Regions from separate parts of the Homo sapiens genome. Here region 1 is linked to region 2. Evidence: fine-mapped expression QTL. A gene starts in region 2. The other region holds a variant in brackets. All regions are shown on one strand. Distances are between the middles of the regions.

Region 1 (8,441 bases), 27 kb after region 2:
CCACGGGGCCTTTCTCCGCCCAAGAAACCTCTTTCCACCGCCTTCAAGCCTCCTGCACCCACCCCTGACCCTCCTCGGCCCAGGGCAGGGAGTCCGGGACTGGAAACGGTCACCTACAGCTGCTGCCCTGTTGGGCCAGCAGCCTGAGAAGAAACCGGAGAATGATCCTTTTCTCAAAAGGGGCTTTACCCAAAACTGCAGGAACCAGGGAAGACTTTAGATCCAACCCCCTGTGGGTGGGGACCCTGACCAAGTTCCTTAGTGTGTGGGCAGCACAGTGAGAATGACGCCTGGACTGTTGGGCCTCCCTCAGTGGTTCTTAGAAAACTCTGGGCTGGGCGCGGTGGCTCATGCTTGTAATCCCAGCACTTTGGGAGGCCGGGGTGGGCAGATCAACTGAGGTCAGGAGTTTGAGAACAGCTTGACCAACATGGTGAAACTCCGTTTCTACCACACTGTTTCCAAAATGAGAAGGGCTGAGGCGTGAGCTGGGTGGATGTAAGTCTGATCAGAGTCTCTGATCAACAGACCCTTCCCCAAACAGAAGCTTGAAACGGACCAATAAGCAGGGGTGAAGAGCTGCGGCGGCTCTCCCAGGGAGGGCCTGGCCTCACCTACGGCATTGTGGATCTCCTCCACCGCGGTCTTCAGCTGCTGCAGCTGGGGCTCCGGCTGTACCCCACGGCCCCGGCCCTGCCGCTCAGACGTCCCCAGGAACTGCTCCAGGTCCTCGAACGAGCTGTCCTTGTCTGGCAATCCAGATGCGGTGTCCCCCAGGGGTGAGGGAGACCCCACGGGGCCGGGTTGGAGTGGGGGCGTGGGGGGACTGTCCTGGGGCCGCGGGGCTGCGCTGGGCTCGGGCGGGGACAGCATGCAATGGAGGCTCTGCGAGGGCCGCAGCCGTCGGCTTCCGGGGTTGGGGGTCGGGGGGCAGCAGCCTGGGGCTGGCGCGGCTGCTCTGCTCACGGCGGGATACAGGGCGCTGTACACGGAGCACTGCAGCCGCCTCAGGAGCTGCGCGATCGGGTGGTCGGGGAGGCTGCGGGAGAAGAGGACGTGAGAACGCGGCCAGCCTCGGCCTCTCCGTGGCATCCACAGGTGCCGCGCTATGCCCGGTTTCAGAGAAGCGACTTGCATTACCTCCTGACAGTGAATGTTGGAAAGTCTGCCCCCCGCCCCCGCTGGGGAGGTTGGAGAAGCCGAGGAAACGCCCTCAGCGCAAAGGGAGCTGCAGTGTCCACGTGGCCGGGCACAGGCTCCCTGTGTCAGTCCAGCCCCTCTCCGGCACCTGGCACCAGGCAGAGGTGCCCAAGGCCGGTGCGCAGGGGCTCTGTGGGGCCTGAAGGCCCAGCTACCTGAGCAGGTGTGAGACCAGGCTGGTCACGAGTGACAGGTCCCCCGGATTCCTCTTGAGCTTGGCCTTCCAGTGCTTCGGCCAGTCCTACGGGACAGGGGGCCTTGAAGGAAAGCACGGTGGGTCCGCCACGACCGGACGCGCCTCATCTCCCACCAGTGCCGACCCCTAGAGACTGTGGGAGCCCGTCCTGGGGTGCAGGAGACCCAGCGCCAGCAGGCCCCGCGACCCGCCCCCGCCCCCACCCACACCCGAGGGAAACCTTAGGCGAACCCTGGGCCTGCACCCTCGCTGGGACCCTCCCTCCTCGCAGGGACCCTCCCTCCTCGCTGGGACCCTCCCACGCGACCCCTGACCTCGCCTCCTCGCTCTGCCCCGCCCCACGCAGCCCTGGCCCCGCCCCCTCACCGGGCCCTCCCACGGGCCTCTGGCCCCGCCCCCTCACTGCCCCCCACAGCCTCTGGCTCCGCCCCCCACGGGGGCCCACCCAGGCGGCTCTGACCCCGCCCCCCTCGCTGGGCTCCTCCTACAAAGCCTGGGCCCGTGGGGGACGCACATGGTCCTGTTCGTACTCCAGGATGGCGGCGTAAAGGGCCCGCTGCTCCCGTTCCTCCGGGGTCAGGGCGACTTGGCTGCAAAACCTCCTGGGGAGAAAGGCACGCGGTGGGTGCCGGGGCCAGGCCCTCCCCGCAGCGGCCCCAGGGGCGGGCAGGAGTCCCACCTGTTGGCGGCCTCCTGGAGCCGCAGCCGGCGCTCCTCCATCTTTCTCTGGAGCTGGGTGCAGAGTCAAGGGGCCGAGCGTGGGATCTGAGCGGGCCCTCGGTTCCCAACCCCGTCCCACACCCGGAGAGGCCGGGACGTCCCAGGGACCTCCTCTCGGTGAGGGGCTGTCCCCAGGTAAGGCTTCTGGGGCAGAAGGCAGCCTGCGCTCAAGCCAGGAGGGCCGGGCCAGAGAACATGGGGGACGGCGGCCGGGCCTTCCCCTGAGACCCTGCCTCTGCAAAGCGGGGAGCCCCTCGGCCCTGTACCCCGACCCCGGAACCTCCGCTCCCCTCGCTGCCCCCTTCTCTGCCCTTGGCTCAAGGCCACACTGAGTTTCCCCTCGGGGACCACCAGGGCGGTCAGAAAGGCTGCTGTCTCCTCCCGGGCTTTGGCAATCACTAGGTTCTCCATCATCTGCCGCTGTAGAGAGAGGGTCTGGGGGGGGAGGAGGGAGTAAGGCCGACTCCCCTCTGCCCCGCGCCCACGCACCCCCAGGCCCTCCCTAGCCCCCACTCACCAGGGATGTCTTCTGCATGGCCTGGCTGGGGTCTAGCCGCGCCATTCGGGCCTCATACGCAGCCTTCAGCTTCTGATTCTGCAGGGAGGCCTCCTCCAGTGGCGTCAGCTCTCTGGAAATGTGACAAGCTGCTGTCTAGACCCCAGGAAGCCCAGTGGTGTCTGGACACCAGAGGAGTCTCTCTCATCCTCCCGGATTGCTCTGAGGCCAGGAGGTGAGGAGAAAGAGGAGGGGAGCCATCTGGGGTGGGCTGCAACATCTGCCCCTTCTTGCCTGCCCTTCCAAAACACAGGTTTTGGCCAGGTGCAGTGGCTCCCGCCTCTAATGCCAGCACTTTAGGAGGCTAAGGCCGGGCGGATCACCTGAGGTCAGGAGTTCGAGACCAGCCTGGCCAACATGGTGAAACTCTGTCTCTACTAAAAATACAAAAATTAGCTGGGCATGGTGCACACTTGTAATCCCAGCTACTCGGGAGGCTGAGGCAGAATAGCTTGATCCCGGGAGGTGATGCAGTGAGCCGAGATCTGGCCACTGCACTCCAGCTGGGGTGATAGAGTGAGACTCTGTCTCAAAAAAACAAAACCAAAACAAAAAATAACAAAAAGAAAGAAAACACAGGTTTTGGTATTGCCAGGACTTTTGGTTTTTCTTTTTTTCTTTTTTTTTTTGAGACGGAGTCTCGCTCTGTCGCCCAGGCTGGAGCGCAGTGGCGCAATCTCGGCTCACTGCAAACTCCGCCTCCCGGGTTCATGCCATTCTCCTGCCTCAGCCTCCTGAGTAGCTGGGACTACAGGTGCCCGCCACTATGCCCGGCTAATTTTTTGTATTTTTAGTAGAGACGGGGTTTCACCGCATTAACCAGGATGGTCTTGATCTCCTGACCTCGTGATCCACCCGCCTCGGCCTCCCAAAGTACTGGGATTACAGGCGTGAGCTACCGCGCCCGGCCGGACTTTTGGTTTTTCAAGAGAAGCTGGACCACTGGACTTCTATGGAGATCCGTTATATGTGTTTGGCAACAGTATGAATCTTGTTAAAGCAAGCTTGTGCAACAATCCGAGGCTGTATGACTTCGAATGTGGCCCAACACAAATTCCTAAACTTTCTTAAAACATCACTGAGGGCTGGGCACGGTGGCTCACGCCTGTAATCCCAGCACTTTGGGAGGATGAGGCAGGCGGATAATGAGGTCAGGAGATTGAGACCATCCTGGCTAACATGGTGAAACCCCGTCTCTATTAAAAATACAAAAAATTAGCCGGGTGTGGTGGCATGTGCCTGTGCTCCAGCCTGGGTGATAGAGACTCTGTCTCAAAAAATCACTGAGGTTTTTTTGCAAAATTTTTTTTTTTGAGTCAGTCTCATTCTGTCGCCCAGGCTGGAGTGCAGTGACACAATCTCAACTCACTGCAACCTCCGCCTCCTGGGTTCAAGTGATTCTCCTGCCTCAGCCTCCCGAGTAGCTGGGATTACAGGCATGTGACACCACGCCCAGCTAATTTTTGTATTTTTTAGTAGAGATGGGGTTTCATCATGTTGGCCAGGCTGATCTCGAACTCCTGACCTCAGGTAATCTGCCCGCCTTGGCCTTCCAAAGTGCTGGGATTACAGGCGGGAGCCACTGCGCCCAGCCTTGCAATTTTTTTTTTTAAGCTCATCGGCTGTTGTTAGTGTTAGCGTATTTTATGTGTGGCCCAAGACAATTCTTCCAGTGTGGCCCAGGGAAGGCAAAAGATTGGACACCCCTGCTTTAAAGGCACTATGTGGGTCAAACAGCCAGATTAGTCTGTGACCCATGAAAGGAAGAAGTGTCCTGTCTCCTTTATACAGTTCCCAACAGCCACTCCACCTTGAAAGCTTTGTTCCCTCGTACCTTCCCACTGTCAGGGACAATGGAG[G/A]ACAAGGAGGAAAGTCAGAGCCTGACGCCTGGCCACCCTGCCCTGAAGCCACATTGCAGAAACAAGGGGACTGGGAAGCCAGGCCCCGCCAGAGCAGGGGCAGGAGGAGTGGACCCTTCTCGTCTCTCCCACTTGGGAGTCACTGGGCTTTTTGCATTTGTGTCTTTGTATCTTTCATCAGTTCTAGACAACTGTCTGCCATTCTAACTTCTAATAATGCCTCTCTCCCATTTTCTTTCTTCTTTTTTTTTGAGCCGGAGTCTCGCTCTGTTGCTAGGCTGGAGTGCAGTGGCACGATCTTGGCTCACTGCAACCTCCACCTCCTGGGTTCAAGCGATTCTCCTGCCTCAGCCTCCCAAGTAGCTGGGGTTACAGGCACGCGCCACCATGCCCAGCTAAGTTTTGTATTTTTAGTAGAGATGGGGTTTCACCATGTTAGCCAGGCTGGTCTTGAACTCCTGACCTTGTGATCTGCCTGCCTTGGCCTCCCTCCCATTTTCTTTCTGGAACTCCAACGAACACGTTAGGCTTTCCATCTCTTGTTTTCTGTCTTTATTTTTTGTTTCTGTAATTCATTCTAGCTATCTTTTGACCTTTTTTCCAATACATGAATTTGCTCTTCAGCTATATCTGCTCTGCTGTTATAAACTTGTCTGCTCAGTTTTGTATGTATGGATTTCTACATATATATAGATATATAACTCATCCTTGTTCCCAGCTAAATTTTTTTTTTTTTTTTTTTGAGATGGAGTCTTGCTCTGTCGCCCAGGCTGGAATGCAGTGGCGCAATCTCAACTCACTGCAACCTCTGCCTCCTGGGTTCAAGGGATTCTCCTGCCTCAGCCTCCTGAGTAGCTGGGACTATAGGTGCCCGCCACCACGCCCAGCTAATTTTTTGTATTTTTAGTAGAGATGGGGTTTCACCTTGTTGGCCAGGATGGTCTCGATCTCCTGACCTCATGATCCACCCACCTCGGCCTCCCAAAGTGCTGGGATTACAGGCGTGAGCCACCGCGCCCGGTCATTTTTTTTTTTTTTAGACAGAGTCTCATTTTGTTGCCCAAGCTGGAGTGCACTGGCACAATCACGGCTCACTGCACCCTCAACCTGTCAGGCTCAAGTGAGCCTCCCACCTCAGCCTCCCTAGTAGTTGGGACTACAGGGGCACACCACTATGCCTAATTTTTTTTGAGACGGAGTTTCACTCTTGTTGCCCAGGCTGGAGTGCAGTGGCACAATCTTCGCTCACTGCAACCTCCACCTTCCAGGATCAAGCGATTCTCCTGGACTCAGCCTCCTGAGTAGCTGGGATTACAGGTGCACACCACCACGGCCAGCTAATTTTTGTATTTTTAGTAAAGACGGGGTTTTACCATGTTGGCCAGGCTGGTCAGGAACTCCTGACCTCAGGTGATCTGCTCGCCTCGGCCTCCTACAGTGCTGGGATTACAGGCGTGAGCCACCAGGCCGCCTGCATTTGCTTGTGTCCGGCCAGGGGATATTCCCATTCTGGGACTCATTTTAAAAACATTCGCTGTCAGGCCAGGCGCAGTGGCTCATGCCTGTAATCCCAGCACTGTGGGGGCCGGGCGCGGTGACTCACGCTGTAATCCCAGCACTGTGGGAGGCCGAGGCAGGCGCATCACGAGGTCAGGAGATCGAAACCATCCTGGCTAACATGGCAAAACCCCGTCTCTACTAAAAATACAAAAAATTAGCTGGGTGTGGTGGTGGGCGCCTGTAGTCTCAGCTACTTGGGAGGCTGAGGCAGAAGAATGGTGTGAACCCGGGAGGTGGAGGTTGCCGTGAGCCAAGATTGAGCCGCTGCACTCCAGCCTGGGTGACAGAGTGAGACTCTGTCTCAAAAAACAAAAAAAAAATCGCTGTCATCAGCTCATCTTTCTCAGCCTCAAAAACCCAATCCCAGGCTCATCCCACCTCCCATCTTGTCCATCTTACTTCTTACAGCTTTGTGACTCTGCCCCCTGAAGCTTCTGGAAGATCTCGGGTGGCAGAAAAGGAGAGAGCTTTCCTCCTTCATCGGAGTATACACGGCGGTGTCGGCCGGCAGGCTGGGGAATGGGAGCAGCTGCAGGCATGGTTGGCTTCAGGCGTGTTTTCCCTGCAAGCCATGGGTAACCAGGGGTCAAGCGGTGGGCCACATCCCACAGAGGAGATGCGGGCTTGGGGGATGCCCCAGGAGAGCCGCCTACTGCAGGAGACCCACCAAGCTTGGCGGCCGTCGACTGGGCCCTCTCCAGACACTGCTGTGCTAGCTTCAGCATCTTGGAGGTGTCGGGGGGCACAGTTTCCCCAGCTTCTGGGGGAGGGACAAGAAGGCTGGTCACAGTCGGCTCTACCACTGTTACTTACTGCTGAGATAAAATGAGGCAACGGAAAAGGCAGGCAAGCCCACTGCCCCCCTCAGCACCCCCACTGACCCCGGGCAAGCCCACTGCCCCCCCATCCCCTCACTGACCCTGGGCAAGCCCACTGCCCCCCCATCCCCTCACCCCGGGTAAGCCCACTGCCCCTCCCGTCCCCCAACTGACTGACCCTAGGCAAGCCCACTGCCCCCCCATCCCCTCACCCCGGGTAAGCCCACTGCCCCTTCCACCCCCCACTGACCCCGGGCAAGCCGACTATTCCTCATGGACCCCAGGCAAGGCCCCTGCCCCCACCATGGACCCCAGGCAAGTCCCCCCACCCACGCATTTCTAATCATCTGCCCTGGTTTTGCCTCCTGAGTCTGCTAAGGCTGTGGGCCCCTCATCGAGGCCCGTCACAGCCTCGACCCTAAACAGGCCTTTAGTGCTCACTCAGCTTCACTTGCAACTGCAGGCCTCTGGGAAGTGGCCGTTTTACAGAGACAAGGACGTGCTGAGGGGATCGCCTCACCCATCTCCCACCGGCTGTGTCCCCAAAGTCCTGCCTTCCCGTAGCTTGGCATGGAGCACCTCTGCGCGACCATGGACCTGCTCACACAGCCCTTCTGCGCGCCGTGGGAGCTGCCTCTCTGTGACTCGCCCCTGGACCCACCGCCCCAGCGCCTGACCCACCTCCCTGCTGCCCTTCACAGAAAACTTCTCATAGACTCCCATTTTCTCATCCCGCCCCGATTTAGCCCCCGACTCCCCCCGGAAACTGCCCTTACCCGTCCCCACCTTGCCAGACACGGTGGGCCACTGGAGTTCCTCTGTCTTCTGGGACTTTGCTCTCCCCAGGGGATCCTCTGCCACTCCTCCACCCAACTCCTCAATCTTGGAGCGCCAGAGCTCAGCCGAGCTCACCGGCTCCCTAGGGAGCTGGGGCAACTGTTAGCTCCCCCTGACCTGTGTGATCCTACGTCCAGTGGCTGCCCCGACCTCTGTGATCCCACGTCCAGGGGCTCCCCCGACCTCTGTGATCCCACGTCCAGTGGCTCCCCCGACCTCTGTGCTCCCACGTCCAGTGGCTCCCCCGACCTCTGTGCTCCCACGTCCAGTGGCTCCCCCGACCTCTGTGCTCCCACGTCCAGTGGGTCCCCCTGACCTCTGTGATCCCACGTCCAGTGGCTCCCCCTGACCTCTGTGCTCTATGTCCAGTGGCTCCCCCTGACCTCTGTGATCCTTTGTGCAGCGGCTGCTGGCCTCTCAAACTTAATGTGTTCATTGCGGAACTTGCTATTCCTCTCCTTGCCAGTTTGCTCCTGCCCCATCTGCCTCCTGCAAGTCTGCTCTGTTCCACCTTCAGGACGCACCCCGAGGCCGTTTACTGCTCCCATCCTGGGTGGTCTGGCCACTGCCATCCTCAGTCCTCACCTGAGGCTCCACTCCCAGGCTGTCCTCTCCCTCAAAGCTCAAAGTCTCTTCAAGTTTCCCTGCACACCAGAACGGCCCCAGTTCCACCCAAGGCATGCACACAGCCCCAC
Region 2 (8,027 bases):
ATCCTCCCGTGTGCTGAACCGCTTCTGGGTGGGGCTGCAGGAGTAGTTGGCAGGTCCAGGTGGAGCCATCATCAGTCAGTGGGTCCTGTTGGAGCCGTAGGTATCAGACATGCAAAAAACCCTTGCGAGGTACTGCAAAAGGCCAATCTTAGGTTACAATAGCATTGTTATCTGCAGGACCTCTGGAATAATGGCTGATAATTGTTTATGTCTACATCTTAGCCAAATTCAGGCTCCTCTCCTCTCCCTAGCCTGGTGGCCCCTCATTAGTTTTACAAATACAGTTGAGTTTTGGGGAGGGGCTATTATCATGTAAACTATAAACATCTCCCAAAGCTAGCCCAAGAATAACTGAAGGCAGCTTGAAGGCTAAAGGTCAAAGGGGGTTTGGCTACATCAGATCTTCCCCAATTGGCATAATTTTCTCAATGATACAATTTTTGTGGCCGGGCTCGGTGGCTCACGCCTGTAATCCCAGCACTTTGGGAGGCCAAGGCGGGCAGATCACGAAGTCAGGAGATTGCAACCATCCTTGTCAACACAGTGAAACCCCGTCTCTACTAAAAATACACAAAAAATTAGCCGGGCGTGGTGGCGGGCGTCTGTAGTCCCAGCTACTTGGGAGGTTAAGGCAGGAGAATGGCGTGAACCTGGGAGGCGGAGCTTGCAGTGAGCCGAGGTCGCACCACTGCACTCCAGCCTGGGCGACAGAGCAAGACTCCGTCTCAAAAAAAAAAAAAAAAAAAAAAGCCTACATGGTAAATATTTATTCTTGCTACAGTTTATACAAATAACCAGGCCAAGTACAATAAGACTAAAACTTATTTTGAAAACAAATCAGTACTACCTGATTTCACTTTGGTAAAAATAGGAGACTAGAGAGAGAAAAATTATGTTTCAAAATAAACTATAGTATACCTGTTATTAGATTCTAGCCTTGCCTAAGGTTTTTCAACTTTTATTATTTTCTCTTTTTTTGTTTGTTTATTTGTTTTTTCAGACAGGGTCTCACTCTGTCACCCGGGCAGTGGTGTGGTATCAGTTCACTGCAACCTCTGCCTCCTGGGTTCAAGTGATTCTCGTGCCTCAGCCTCCCGAGTAGCTGGGATTATTGGTGTGCACCACTATGGCCAGCTCATTTTTTTGTATTTTTAGTAGAGATGCGTTTCACCATGTTGGCCAGGCTAGTCTCGAACTCCTGACCTCATGATCCACCGGCCTCGGCCTCCCAAAGTGCTGGGATTATAGGCATGAGCCACTGCGCCGGGCCAAAGCCGTGCTTTTCTTAAAGCTCTGCGAACGAAAGCTAGACAACTTAAACCTCAGAAGAGAATAATGGTACCTATTTATATACATAAACCACTTTCACGCCTGCCTGCTGTGTATGGACTTCAGAGGAACACAGCCTACGTCAGTTTTCTAGGATTGTTCTCTCCACGTGCTCTTTGTTTTCTTTCTTTCTTCTTCCCTCTATTTTCCTCCCTCCCTCCCTTCCTTCCTTCCTTTCACAAAGTCTCACTCTGTTACCCAGGCTGGAGTGCAGTGGCACGATTTTGGCTCACTGCAACCTCCGCCTTCCGGGTTCAAGCGATTCTCCTGCCTCAGCCTCCCGAGTACCTGGGACTACAGGCAACCACCACCACACCCAGCTAATTTTGTTAGTTTTAGTAGAGACGGGGTTTCACCATGTTGGCCAGGCTGGTCTCGAACTCCTGACCTCAAGTGATCTGCCTACCTCGGCCTCCCAAAGTGTTGGGATTATAGGCATGAGCCACTGTGCCTGGTCACAACACCTGCATTTTCTTTTTTTTTTGTTTTTTTTTTTGAGACAGAGTCTCACTCTGTCACCCAGGCTGGAGTGTAGTGGTGTGATCTTGGCTCACTGCAAGCTCCGCCCCGTGGGTTCACACCATTCTCCTGCCTCAGCCTCCCGAGTAGCTGCAACTACAGGCACCCGCCACCATGCCTGCCTAATTTTTTGTATTTTTTAGTGGAGATGGGGTTTCACTGTGTTAGCCAGGATGGTCTCTATCTCCTGACCTCGTGATCGACCCGCCTCAGACTCCCAAAGTGCTGGGATTACAGGCATGAGCCACCACGCCTGGCCAACACCCCCATTTTGTATACCACACTCAACTCCCCCATTTTCTACATGCTGATCAAAACCAATCTGAATGGAGTCTAGGTCTGGCTGTGGGCTGTTGGGAAGAGGCCCCCAAATCTGGCCATCAACTGGCCGCAAAACTGGCCATAAACAAAATCTCTGCTGCACTGTGACATGCTCATGATGGCCATGACTCCCACACTGGAATGAGGGCAAGGAACACCTGGCCCACCCAGGGCGGAAAACCGCTTAAAGGAGTTCCTGAACCACAAACAATAGCATGAGCGATCTGTGCCTTAAGGACGTGCTCCTGCTGCAGATAACTAGCCAGACCCATCCCTTTATTTCCCGTAAGAAGTGCTTTTAATCTATAATCTATAGAAACAATGCTTATCACTGGCTTGCTGTCAATAAATATGTGGGTAAATCTCTGTTCGAGGCTTTCAGCTTCGAAGGCTGTGAGACCCCTGATTTCCCACTCCACACCCTATATTTCTGTGTGTGTTTCTTTAATTCCTCTAGCGCCGCTGGGTTAGGGTCTCCACGACCGAGCTGGTCCCGCAGTGGGCAGTGGTTTGGGCCCGACCGAGCTGGTCCCGCAGTGGGCGGTGGTTTGGGCCCGACCGAGCTGGTCCCGCAGTGGGCGGTGGTTTGGGCCCGACCGAGCTGGTCTCGCAGTGGGCGGTGGTTTGGGCCCGACCGAGCTGGTCTCGCAGTGGTTTGGGCCCTGCTTGCTCGACTGGATTTCAACAGTGAAGCCAGATTAGAGGACATGCTGGCTGCCCCGATCCTGGACCTGGACCAATGGTGCTTCCTAAACATTCCATGTCAACTTTTCTTTTTCCACCTTCCAGGGCTGGGCTGTGAAAGAGATTGGAGAGGCAGGTGCCTGTGAGAGAAGCTTCTACCAGCCTGGGAAGTCAGGTCTTCCATGAGTGAGGGGAGGTATCTACTTTGCCAAACCTTGTTAGGGAATGCTGACATAGCTGCCTCTTCCTGCCCAGAAGCTAAGCTTGAATGCCACCCCTCACAGAGCTTCTCTCCTGTCTTTCACTCACTCCTGCTTATTTCTGTGACAGAACTTGACAGCATGGACATTGCCACTTGCTTCCTTCAGTCTCCTGGAGTCCCCATGTCCTGAACACAGAGGAGGCACCCAAATGCTTGCTGAAGCCACATCCCTGGACCAAGTGACCTGACCCTCACCTGGAGGACCTTCACCTTCACCTCTCACCTGGAGGACCCTCTCACCTGGAAGACTCTCTCACCTGGAGGACCACCCCACCTGAAGGACTCCCAACTGGAGGACCCTCTTACCTGGGGGACCCCCTCCGCTGGAGGACCCTCTCACCTGGAGGACCCTCTTACCTGGAGGGCCCTTCACCTGGGGGACTCCCCCACCTAGAGGATCCTCTTACCTGGAGGTCCCCTCACCTGGGGAACCCCCCCCCCACCTAGAGGATCCTCTTACCTGGAGGGCCCTTCACCTGGGGAACCCCCCCCCCCCACCTAGAGGATCCTCTTACCTGGAGGACCCCCCACCGAGAGGACCCTCCCCCCCCACCTGGAGGACCTCCCCACATGAAGGACTCCCACCTGGAGGACCTTCTTACCTGGGGGAACCCGTCTCACCTGGAAGACCTTCACCTGGGTAATCGCCGTGGCCTCCCACTACGGCGCAGCCGGGTCGGCTGCCCGGGCTTCACCCTAAAATAAGGCCCGAACTGCAGCAGTCGGAGCCGATCCCTGGAGCCCAGCGCCTAGGGCGGACCCGCGGGAGCGTCTCTTGGTAACCGTTGCTAAGGAGAGGAAGCCCGGGAAGGAGCTTTCGCGCCTGCGCCGCGGGGCCGTCCGCGTCTGCGCCTGCGCGCAAGAGAGGCGGGGCCAGCGCTCGGCATGGCGGAGCCAGATCTGGAGTGCGAGCAGATCCGTCTGAAGTGTATTCGTAAGGAGGGCTTCTTCACGGTGCCTCCGGAACACAGGGTGCGCGGGGTGCCACCCGGGCAGCTCTGCCCGCCTCGCTAGCGGCACTGCCCGGCTGGGTCTGGGGAGCCTCGTGTCGCGCTGCCGCGCCGAGGCTTCCGGCACGGGCGGGAACGACAGTCCCAGAGTTCCCCGCGGCGGGGGCGGAAGCCGGGGCGGGGCGGGCTCAGGACCCCCGACAGCCGGTCCCTGGAGATCTGAGGGGCCGGGGCGGGCTCAGGGATGCCTCGCGCCCGCGGAGAGACGGGCCCGGGACTTGGGAAGAGCAAGCTCCGGGATCCAGCTCGGGCGCTGCTGGGTTCAGCGCCCGAGCTGGGCTTTGCAGGCTGAGCCGCGAGCCACTTGTTTGTGGGGAGAATTTACACCCGCGACGAGTTCGAGCTTGAAGGCTCCCGCTGGGCTTGGGCTGCATGGAGCGGGGTCCAGCGCTGCCTGGCGGCTTCACGCGAACCCTGGGCGCGTCCCTTGCGGAGGTGCCGGTGCCTCCCTCTGCAGAGACCAGGAGAGAGCCTCTGGGCGTTGGGCGGTGTTGCCCAGGTGCACGGCTGGTGGGGGTGGAGAGCCCTGAACTTTGGCCGCTGGTTTGTGTTTTTAACTGCTGGCTGGTGCTCTGAGAGGCCAAGCCACGTGTTCAGTAAGAATCATTAACAGATCGTGGCTGGATGACAACAGGAGCCACACTTTACTCATCCAGACGTGCAGCAGGCGCTCACCGCGTTGAGAGCCGTGTGCTGGACTCTGGGGTGAAGTAGTGAGTTGGCCTTTTCTTTTTTGTTGTTTTTTTGAGACAGGGTCTAGCGCTCTCGCCCAGGCTGGAATGCAGTGGCGTGATCACGGCTCAGTGCATCGTCAGCCTCCTGGGCTCAAGTGATCTTCCTGCCTCGGCCTCCCAAGTGCTGGAATTACAGGCGTGAGCCACCGCCCCCAGCCTGGCCTGGCATTTCTTTGAGTTCAGGAAGTGTGACAAGGATTTGGACACCCAGAAATAAGCGTGTCGAGAAGAGCACAAGCAGAGGATGTGAGAAGGGGAATTAAGGCGGGAAAGGGAGTTTGAGACTAGGCCATCAGTGAGTGACAGGCCAGATGCTTCTGACTCGGTCCCCAGGTGTCAGGAAGGAATCAGACTGAGGACAAATGCGGCCAGTGGCTCACACCTGTAATCTCAGCAATCTGGGAGGCTGAGGTGGGAGGATTGCTTGAGCCCAGGTTTGATACTGAGGGTTAAGAGAAGGGAAGCCGGGAAATGGGGGCTGTGAGGTTTCAAACCTTGCTACGTGTGCTTTTTTTTTTTTTTTTTTTTTTGAGACGGAGTCTCATTCTGTCACCCAGGCTGGAGTGCAGTGGCGCAGTCTCGGCTCACTGCAAGCTCCACCTCCTGGGTTCACGCCATCCTCCTGCCTCAGCCTCCCAAGCAGCTGGGACTACAGGCGCCCGCCACCACGCCCAGCTAATTTTTTCATATTTTTAGTAGAGACGGAGTTTCACCGTGTTAGTCAGGGTGCTCTAGATCTCCTGACTTCGTGATCCACCCACCTCAGCCTCCTAAAGTGCTGGGATTACAGGCGTGAGCCACTGCGCCCGGCTTACATGTGCTTCTTAGATCCATGGAGAAGGATACAGACTCTACTAGTTCAGAGACCCCAAAATACAGGGCCTCAAGATGATGCCTTTTTTCACTCTCCCCTAACATTCTGGAGAGAAGCAGTTGTTTTGCACAGGTGGGTCAGGCATTCTGGTTCCATTTTTTCTTCCCGTCACTGAGGTGAGAAGAGGTGAAAGCTTCCTTTCACCTGGAAGTCACACGGTCCCTTCAGCTCACATTCCAAGGCCAGATGCCACTGGGTAGCGTTTCATAACTTCCAGGAGGTAGTGATACAGGGATGCTGGGACAGCAGCCTCTGCCACAGATGTATTTTTGTATGTGGGATTGAAAGGGAGTATCTGAGTGGCCGCCTCTGATATTTCTTTCAAAGCATTGGCCCAGTATCGTCACCACCTTTTCTCATCAGAAAAGCCCAAGAGGCCGGGTACGGTGGCTCACGCTTGTAATCCCAGCACTTTGGGAGGCCAAGGCGGGCAGATCACTTGAGGTCAGGAGCTCAAGACCAGCCTGGCCAACATGGTGAAACCCAGTCTCTACTAAAAATAGAAAATTAGGCGGTTGTGGTGGCACCTGCCTGTAATCCCAGCTACTCAGGAGGCTGAGGCCGGAGAATCACTTGAACCCAGGAGGCGGAGGTTGCAGTGAACCATGTTCTTGCCACTGCACTCCAGCCTGGGCAACAGAGCGAGACTCAGTCTCAAAAAAAGAAAAAAAAAGCCCAAACGTGTGGTTGCCTTTCTGTTTGGTGAGCAAGACGTGAGTGGGCTCCCTGGTACAAATTCCATTTGAAATTTCCTCAGTTGTTCCATCAGCTGCCAAATTTCCACACTGGCAACACCCTTCTGTTTCAGCTGGGACGATGCCGGAGTGTGAAGGAGTTTGAGAAGCTGAACCGCATTGGAGAGGGTACCTACGGCATTGTGTGTGAGTGGCCAAGGCTAGGACATGTGGCCGCAGCTCGTGGCTGTGACAGTGTGGGACGAGACTGTCGAAGCAGCAGCCGCGTTGGGGCTGGAAGGGACTCAGACCCTGTGCTCTGAAACAGGGCAGAAACCTGTTCAGGAACTTCAATTCCTGATGTAGTTATCACAAACATTGTACCATTTCTGGGTAAACGTAAGCATCCGGTTGCTAATGCCCATAATCCAAACGTGTCACTGCAGAGTACACAGAACTGTTAGAGAAATAAAATACAGAACTTTCCAGAAGCAGCAGGAGCTGGACATGGTGCTCATGTCTATCACCTCAGCAACTCTGGAGGAGTCACCTGAGCCCAGGTGTTTTTTCTTTTTGTTTGTTTTTGAGATGGGTCTTGCTCTATTGCCCAGACTGGAGTGCAGTGGCATGATCATAGCTCACTGCGGCCTCGACCTCCTAGGCTCAAGTGATCCTCCCACCTCAGCCTCCTGAGTATCTGGGACCACAAGAGTACATAAGCACACCCAGCTAATTTTTAAATTTTTGGTAGAGATGGGATCTCCCTATGTTGCCCAGGCTGGTCTTGAACTTCTGGGCTCAAATGATCCTCCTGCCTCGGCCTCCCAAAGCACTGGGATTACAGGTGTGAGCCACTGCACCCGGCCAAGCCTAGGAGTTTGAGGCTGCAGTGAGCTGTGATCACGCCACTGCACCCCAGCCTTGGCAACAGAGTGAGACCCTGTCTCAAAAAAACCAAAAACACCACACACAACTAAAGGTTATAACAGATGTGAAATTGGCGTAGGTCATTCTGGAAGCTGCACACATTAGCAGGATGTTTTGTAGAGCCATCTTCACACAAAATAAGGTTTGCTTTTTTCTGCATAGAGTACCTTATTTGCTTTTAGGACATTACAAGAGAGCACAAAGCAGTGATCTGCATGCTAAGGAGGACATGGAGAGCCTGGAGCCACAGAACTGAGTGGCTGGAGGCCAGGGTCCAGCACAGAGCAAAGTTGGGCACCCCCTGCCCAGTTCAAATGAGGAAACCCTCCGGGGGAACGCGTCTCGGGCTAGGGGCGTTGCACAGAGTGGGGACTGAGTGTCACTGGGCATGAGGTTGTCAGAGGAAAGAACGGGGACCCCTGTGGCTCAGGGAGAGCCTCCCGTTCAGCGCTAGGGAGCCCACGAGGGGCATCGAGATGATGTCATCACCAATGTGTTTCCATTCCAGATCGGGCCCGGGACACCCAGACAGATGAGATTGTCGCACTGAAGAAGGTGCGGATGGACAAGGAGAAGGATGGTGAGCAGGAAATTGGGGTGTTGGGACCTCGCACTGGGAGGAGGCAGAAGGATGTGAGTTACCTGAAGTTTCCTCAGAGCGACTGCACGGTGCTTGTAGCGGGGGCCGGCCTC

Evidence for each region.
Region 1: its variant is fine-mapped to the expression of LINC02166 in tibial nerve (GTEx, PIP 0.99).

Annotation. Positions count from the first base shown.
Region 1 is chr16:89,709,972-89,718,412 of GRCh38, forward strand. It overlaps VPS9D1 (VPS9 domain containing 1), which reads right to left. Exons shown (of 15, transcript NM_004913.3): 3 at 6,759-6,851; 4 at 6,491-6,653; 5 at 2,634-2,745; 6 at 2,489-2,551; 7 at 2,076-2,128; 8 at 1,911-1,998; 9 at 1,356-1,441; 10 at 615-1,039. It overlaps VPS9D1-AS1 (VPS9D1 antisense RNA 1), which reads left to right and starts at 1,885. Exons shown (of 4, transcript NR_036480.1): 1 at 1,885-2,251; 2 at 2,718-2,847; 3 at 6,500-6,933; 4 at 7,373-8,194. RefSeq lists enhancers at 716-1,279, 2,777-2,876 and a silencer at 1,717-2,136. The variant G/A (reference allele first, on the strand shown) is at 4,532.
Region 2 is chr16:89,682,711-89,690,737 of GRCh38, forward strand. It overlaps LINC02166 (long intergenic non-protein coding RNA 2166), which reads right to left and starts at 4,202. Exons shown (of 3, transcript NR_184152.1): 1 at 3,737-4,202; 2 at 2,100-2,965; 3 at 1-466. CDK10 (cyclin dependent kinase 10) reads left to right here and starts at 3,979. Exons shown (of 13, transcript NM_052988.5): 1 at 3,979-4,087; 2 at 6,542-6,614; 3 at 7,843-7,914. The coding sequence starts at 4,001. RefSeq lists a silencer at 4,164-4,413.